Linked DNA regions of Homo sapiens. The protein of the gene in region 2 purifies or fractionates together with the protein of the main gene of each other region. This does not show direct contact. Each region holds a gene or a part of one and is shown on either strand. Other genes may lie near its edges.

Region 1 (4,018 bases), on a different chromosome or scaffold from region 2:
CACCAAAACTTACACAGCAATGCCTAAAAAGTAGCACAAAAGACTTAAAACCAGTGCCAATAGAGCAGAACATTTATCTTGAAACCTAAACTCTTGTCTAAACTTTTTTCCACTTGGTGTACTTTGCACAGACCTAACTTTTGGTATCAGGAAGGAGTCCTTCCCTAAATACCCAGTCGATGTCACAATCTACTCCTTGGTCATTTAAAACCCCATAATGTTACTTATTTATTCATTTGCAACCAGTGCAACACTTATTATCTGTTAGCTCTCAGCTTCAAACAGCTAGGTCAAAGTCAAGTAGAACTTTCACCACAAACTGCACATCCTGACCTATTTCAACAGAGGTCGTCATCCCTGTGAGGAATTCACTTAAATGTGAATTCATTAAATGTGTTGCCTTACCTAAACTGCAAGAGATAGAGGTTCACAACTTGTGATAGCAGACTTCAAAGTATTATGCAAAAACAAAAAACAAAAATAAAACATCATTGTCTAATTCATTAGAAAGTCGGGGAGTACAGGGGTATGGCAGTTAAAACTTACCCAAGGCCTCAACTGCAATGTTCTTCCACTCCAAGTGGGAATCTAGTGTTCATTTTATTCGGATATCACTTTGCAAAAAGGTAAAATCCAGGGCCAGGTTACCACACATTTTCTGAGAATAAAATGCTACATACTAATTATAGGAGATGCCTACTTCAGTTGTTTCTTTTCATATTTTTCAAGAGTACCAGAAGGCAAGATCTCCTGATATACCACTAAAAGGACAATTCATTTAATGAAATACATAAAAACAAAAACAAACAAAAGGCTGGGTGCCGTGGCTCACGTCTGTAATCCCAACACTTTGGGGAGGCCAAGGCTGGTGGATCACTTGAGGCCAGGAGTTCGAGATCAGACTGGCCAACATGGTGAAACCCCATTTCTACTAAAAATACAAAAATTAGGCCGGGCGCGGTGGCTCACGCCTCTAATCCTAGCATTTTGGGAGGCTAAGGCAGGTGGATCACTTGAGGTCAGGAGTTCAAGACCAGCCTGGCCAAGATGGTGAAACCCCATCTCTACTAAAAACACAAAAATTAGCCAGGCATGGTGGCACGTGCCTGTAGTCTCAGCTACTTTTAGGAGGCTGAGGCCTGAGAATTGCTTCAACCAAGGAGGTAGAGGATGCAGTGAACCAAGATCATGCCACTGCACTCCAGCTTGGGCGACAGCGTGACTCTGTCTCAAAAAAAAAAAAAAAAAAAAAAGAAATGTAAAAAGTTTAGCATCCACCTGCCTTACCTGTTACAGGAATGCTACATCTCTGTAAAGCGTCTTTGCTTCTCTAGCATCAAGACAGCTAGGATGGCTTGTCCACTGGTTTTCAAACTTCTGAGCAGCTCTTTAGAGGAAATGAAGTTTTTTGGGGAATAAGAGAAAATCCAAGAGAAGGTTCCTAGGTTCCACACATCCACATCAACCAGATCATTCTTTCATTTTTTTATACAGATGTGGGCTTTACAGTAAGACTTTCTATTTAAAAAAGAAAATGTAATCTGTCATGAGATTGAGTAAAATATATAAAAGTAAGAAAATATATTTTTAAAAAAGAAAATGATTTCGCACTATTACAAGGTTTAACTTTCAGTGTGCCTGCTAGGATAGAGAGCAGTGGTACTATAGTCTAGGGTTACCTGAAAGCACCTGACATCCTTTAAAAGGATCTGTGAGGTTGCTTTTTTGCAACAGCCAAAATCTGGAAATAGCCCAAATCTCCAACAGCAGATAAATGGATAAACAAATTGTATACTACTCAGCAATAAAAAAGGAATGAATTATGAATTATTAATGCACATACCAGATGAATCTCCAAGTAATTTTGAGGTCTAAATGCTTCCGTCTAAAAATGAAAGAAGTAATTTTGAGTGAAAGAAGACATACAGAGTATGTAATTTTGAGTGATTTTGAGTGAAAGAAGTAATTTTGAGTTCCAAGTGATTTTGAGTGAAAGAAGACATACAGAAAAAGCACTAATGGCATGATTTCATTTTTATATAATTTTAGAAAATGCAAGCTAATCTATAGTAATAAAATTTATCAGTGATTGACAAAGGACTAGCCAGAGGGATTATAATACAGCACATGGAAACTGTTGGGGGTGGTAAATATGTTATCTTGATTGGAGTGGTTTATAGCTGTATATGTCAAAGTTTACCAAATTGCACACTTATTTTTTTAAAGTAAAATTATGCATCAATTGTAAATTAAAAACTTAATTTAAAAAAGTCATTTGTCTTTCTCTTGTTCTCAGTACACAGTGTTGTTTTCCAGAAGTTAAATGACACCGTGTCATTTGGACACCGTGTCCATCACCTTAATAGCTAATGGAATGTGTGCTCATGTATCTTGTGTTTTAAATTTTTCTCCATTTTACTTTCCAATATGGTAAATGGTAAATATCTATATGATATATCTATCTTAAACCAGTGGTGTGCTAGGGCAGGATTGCACCAGCTCCCCAGAGCTGATTGTGCACATCTATTCCCAACTCTGTGTTTAGAGGTGTCATGCAGATAGCTCAAACTCAGCCATGGTTAAGTATTTACACCATGAAAAGCAGCAAAATCAGGGCTTTTTCTCAAATAGCTGGTTGTTCAACAATTACTGGCCCATGTAAGCAAAAACCCATTGAAGTCTTTGAGATACATATATATAGTGAGATAGGGTCTCTGGCTGAACTCAAACTTGTGGACTCAAGGGATCCTCCTACCTCAGCCTCCAATGTGGCTAGGACTACAGGCGCATGCTACTGCGCCTGGCTCAGTCCCTAATTTTTAACCGCAAAAGGATTCTCAAACCAAGCTGTCTAAGAACTACTAGGTTCAGTGATTCCTTATCCGTGGAGCTAGAAAGTGTTACTGGGGAAAAAGAAAAAAGAAAAATAATGGGACTTTCAGACACTCAACGCTATCAAAAAAATCTTTTGCAGACATTCATACTAAATTGTCTTCACTAAATGCCACCACTGCCATTCTCCCATGGTGCTCTTTGTTGGCCCAGTCCTTCCTCTAAGACCAGAAGGGCCTGGGGTTGATAAGTAGCTCCTTTTTAAATTTGAAGAGTGCAAAGGCTGGTAGGAGGGGTGGGGCTGCCAACTTCTCTGGCAAACACCAAAGATGTATCACCTTGCGTTCTATAGCTACTCATGAACCAAAAATGGAACTTCAAGGTACTGCTTGGAAAAGAATAGCACCAGACCACGTTTTCTAGATGATGGAGATTACAACTCCAGCAACGGGATAAGAGGTTCATGACACAAATATATTTATATTAGGTGAATCAATCACCAGGATACCAAGATCTGATACTTTCACAAACTGCTTGGAGGCAACTTAAGTATGGAAGAAGCTTCAGAACCAGCCCAGCTTTCTGCTCTCTGGCTCCAGGCTGCATCCTTTTTAACTATTTAATGTGGCGTGGAAAATGTCAGCATAATGAGGCTTTCTCATCTCAATAGAGAACCTAGGAAGGACAAGGCCGAATTAAAAAAAAAATCTTCATTAAAGAATTTAATAGGGAGTTGATTATGTTGTAGAATCATATCGTCCTATTCTGTGACACATTAGAAACATAAACTTTAGGGCTTTTTCATCTCCACAGCATAGAGGTCTGATCGCTTCTGTCTAAAAACGGGGATTTGCTGGCGTATTTCAGCCAGCTTCTTCAGGTCTGCAAAAAACAGGAAAGTGCACTATTAATAATTTGCAACTCCTCACTAACCAAGGGGATTTCTTCCCCTGACTGTATAAACCACCAGAGTCTTAGTAAGTAACTTAGTAACATAGGTCTTATCTAGGTGCACAGATGGCCTGGCATCATTTCAAACCAAACCAAGAAAATTCAAGCTGATACACTCCCCAGGGATTGGCCAGAGAACCAGACCCTAGAATATCCCCAGAGATCAATGAGAAGGGGCATAAAGGAACCCCTCCAAATGACAGGGACTTCCCAGCCATGGAGTCTGGCCTCAGAA
Region 2 (4,018 bases):
GAAATTAATAAAGACCTAAGTAAATGGTGAGACATACCATGTGTATGTATTAGAAGGCATCTATTTTCTCTAAATCAAACTAGATTCCATGCAATTTCAATCAAAATCCAAACAGGTGTTTTGTAAAATTGAAGAGCAGGTTCTAAAATTTACACGTAAATGCAAGTAACATAGAATGAGCAAAACTTACACCACTTGGTTTCAAAATTTTCTATACAGCTGTGATAATTACAACAATTTTGTACTACTATAAGATTAGACCAATGGAATAGAGTCTAGATAAGAATTCAAATTATGCTCACAAAAAGACGTGTAACAAGAATATTTATGGTAGCATTATTCATTAGATCTCAAAACTGGAAATGATCCAAACGTGCAACAACAGTAGATAAATAAACAAACTGTGTTATATTTATATAATACCTACTTAGAATTTTAAAAATTGAACTATTGATACACACATATAGATGAATCCCAAAAATACCAATTTGAATAAAAGAAGCCAGACACAAGATTCCATTAAGTCACTCATTAAGTGACTCAATTTAACTGAAATTCAAGAACAAGCCAAACTATGCTACAGTAATAGATATGCAAACAATAATACATGAGATGGGAGTTGACTTGAAAGAAGCACAAGGAAACTTTCTGGGGTGATGAGAATATTCTCCAACTTAATTGAGGTAAATAGGTGCATAATTTTACCAAAATTCTCTGTACTATAATTTATCAAAATTAACTATGCACATACAATTTCTGTATTTCACTGTAAATTTTAAAGAAACATGTTAGAACTTATGTCCACAAGATGTCATTAAGAATGTGAAAATGCAAACCACAAAGAGAAGGTATTTGTATTCATATATCCAACAACAATAATAAACTGTATCCAAAAAACTACAGAACTCCAACAAATCAATAGAAAAAGATGACCAAATAAAAGAATGGGCAAATAATCTGAGTGGGCATTTCTTTTGAGGATATTTAAATGCTCAATAAGCACATAAAACAGTGTGCAACATCATTAGTATTAAAGAAATATTAATAAAAATCACAATAGGATACCATTACACATCTACTGGTTTGGCTAAAATTAAAAAGACAATGGAAAGTGTTCAGGAGGATGTGAGACAAATGGGAATCTTGAATACTGCTGGTGAGGCTGTCAATTGTTACAGCCTCTCTGGAAATATGCTTGGCATAGTGTACCAAAGTTAATAAAGCTTAACCTGCTTTTATACATTTCATTTTCACTCATTTCTATAAATACTGGCTTGGGTAAAGCCACATAATAGTAAGCATCACTTCCATGTAACAAGAGATTAGATACATTCTAGGACAAAACTGGCCAACTAACAGGCAGGTAAACCCTGAATATCATTTACATGCCATCAATGGAATGATTTTACAAGCCAAGTGATATCTTCAATATACCTTATAGGAATAACATAGTCAATGAAATATCCATAGTACAGAAAAACTTATGGGTTTACAAGTGGTGAAAGAAAAAAATCAGGAGAGAGAATAAATACCAGAAATGTGGACAATATCAGAAAGTATGTAGCAACATGTTAAAGCATGAAACCTTGATAAATTTTTAAAAAGGTTATTAAAATTCATTTTTATCCTGTACCAATCACATTAAAAAGAGTGAGAGTTAAGGAAGGCACGTATCTATCACATGCCTCCTTTTGACGTCACCGGAAAGGTAGCAAGCAAGGTAGATGACACCAGAATCTCTCTTATTAGCAGCACAAGAAACATTGCCATAATAGATGGAAGGTAGCAACTATCCTTAAAACCGCAAATGAAGCCATATTATGCTACAAAAGCAACGACAATAAATCTATGCCCAAACTGCTTGCCTAAACAGGGTAATGTGTTAGGAACACCAGTCAGAAGTCTTAAAACAGCAAAGTACACCATGAATGCCAGAGCATTCTAATAAAATACTATCAAACAGCATTCTGAAGTCTGGAAACCAGTTAAAAGCTACAGGCTTAATGATACCGCAGTGCTCCTCAATTTGAGACTCATTAGTTAAAACTGGCCCATAATCTGGTGCTCACTCAATCTATTGCAGGGTCAAGTCTTAGGACAAGTAATTGCAACCCCTTATGAACAACAATTCTTAGGTTATTTACCACAACAAAATACACTTTTTAAAACCTCACATAGGCATAAACTATTACACAATTAAAATATTAGTATTATATATAAATACCCACAATTACTCATTCCTATTACACTATTTTAAATAACAACAACAAGCAAATACTGCAAGATATTTATTCAATCTTCACTAAACATCTATTTGTCAGGTTCTATGCTAAGTGCTTAGAGATACAGTATCCCTCAGTGTCTGTAGGGATACAGAAGTAAGTATCATATAAACTGCTCTAGAAAATTAGTCCAGCATAAGGTAGGAAAAAAATCAGCTAATTATAATATACTAAGTATGATATCATCTCTCTTAACTGACCTCCACTGAATTGCCTCATAGTATTAACCAAAGCCATGTATTCCTATATCTAACGCCCATGGAAGACCAAATGGTCCAGATCAAGAGGCTTCATTCTTGCACACCCTCACACTTTTGCTCCCACAAACTGAGCCTTATGCTTTTTATGCTTATTAAGAGTCAACTATGTTTGTTCTCAAATTTGTTTATGCCAGTTTCATTTTCTATTGCAATTAAATAATTTAATATTTAAAGTAATGTGTTGGAAATCTTCTATGTTTTGCTACTAATAAGTGAAAACTTGAGCAAACCAATAAGTAAAAATGATGACTTGATCTAGAACAGTGGCTCCCAATCTACTGTATATGGGAACTCCTCTTTAAGTTCTAAAACTAAGCTGTAGAAAATGGCAGCCCCTAACCACATAAGGTTATGAAGCACGTAAATGTAGCCAGGGCAACTTGAGGAACCTAATTTTTACTACTATTTAATTTCAGTGTAATTATTTAGCATCAGAAGTAAGATGTGTCGTACATGTAAAACATGCCAATTTTCAAAAATTTAGTGTAAAAAATATAAAATATCACTTTAATAATTTTATACCGATTACATGTTGAATATTTTGAATATACTGGGTTAAATAAAATATATTATTAAAATCAATCTTACGTATTTCTTCCTTTTTATAATGTGGTATCAAGAACATTTAAATTTATATGTAGCTCATATTACATTTCTATTGGTGAGTATGGTCTAAAACGTTCGATGATCTGTTCAAATAGCTATTGGTTATAAAACTGTGTAACAAAAAGTTACCATGAAGCTGGTCCAATGATTTCATATTTTACTAAATCACAACAGCACCCACAAATAATGCTTAGTGCACATGGAGATTTTTGGATTTTCTGAAATAACTCTGGCCTAAAGTTTGAGAAATACTGCCTAGAATTCCTATCACAATTGGTAATGACATGAAATTCTTAAGATAAAAAATATTAATTCCTAGAATAAGGTTTTCAGTGGTCTTATGATTAATCAGACAATTGTATTTATATTTAGGTAGAAATGAACTTATCTTTCATCCCTGCAGAAATACCACTATGTTTCTTCCTTCCAACTTCAACTATCCTAAAAATCAGTAACAAGAAGCTTTTTTGACATTTTCAAAGACATGCAATTTATAGCACAAAAATAACCACTGGTGATTGGGTCTTTTAACTAGATTACCAAACTTTTAAACTCTATTAAAATTACATTTAAATAATAACTCCTTTGAGTCTTCAGTCTTACATTATCATTTTGTTCTCCCTTTTTCAATTCTATCAATTAAAGTAAGTAAATTCTTATTAGTACATATAAAAACGTCCTTGAAGTTCTGGTTTTATTTCTCCTTAATACTAAGTTAATGAAAATATAAAGCAAGGCATTTGCATAGTATGCCTGATAAGAAAAAAATCAAGAACAGGCCAGGTGCAGTGCCTCATGCCTGTAATTCCAGCACTTTTGGGAGGCCGCGGTGAGTGGATCACCTCAGGTCAACAGTTCCAGACCAGCCTA

Evidence for each region.
Region 1: the proteins of LYPLAL1 (region 2) and NIT2 fractionate together in Homo sapiens (co-fractionation; one large-scale study listed by BioGRID). This does not show direct contact.

Annotation. Positions count from the first base shown.
Region 1 is NC_000003.12:100,354,873-100,358,890, reverse strand, and holds part of NIT2 (omega-amidase NIT2), read right to left. Parts: intron 3,715-4,018; coding exon 3,623-3,714; 3' UTR 1-3,622. UniProt on the Homo sapiens protein: Has omega-amidase activity. The role of omega-amidase is to remove potentially toxic intermediates by converting 2-oxoglutaramate and 2-oxosuccinamate to biologically useful 2-oxoglutarate and oxaloacetate, respectively.
Region 2 is NC_000001.11:219,180,193-219,184,210, reverse strand, and holds part of LYPLAL1 (lysophospholipase-like protein 1), read right to left. Parts: intron 1-4,018.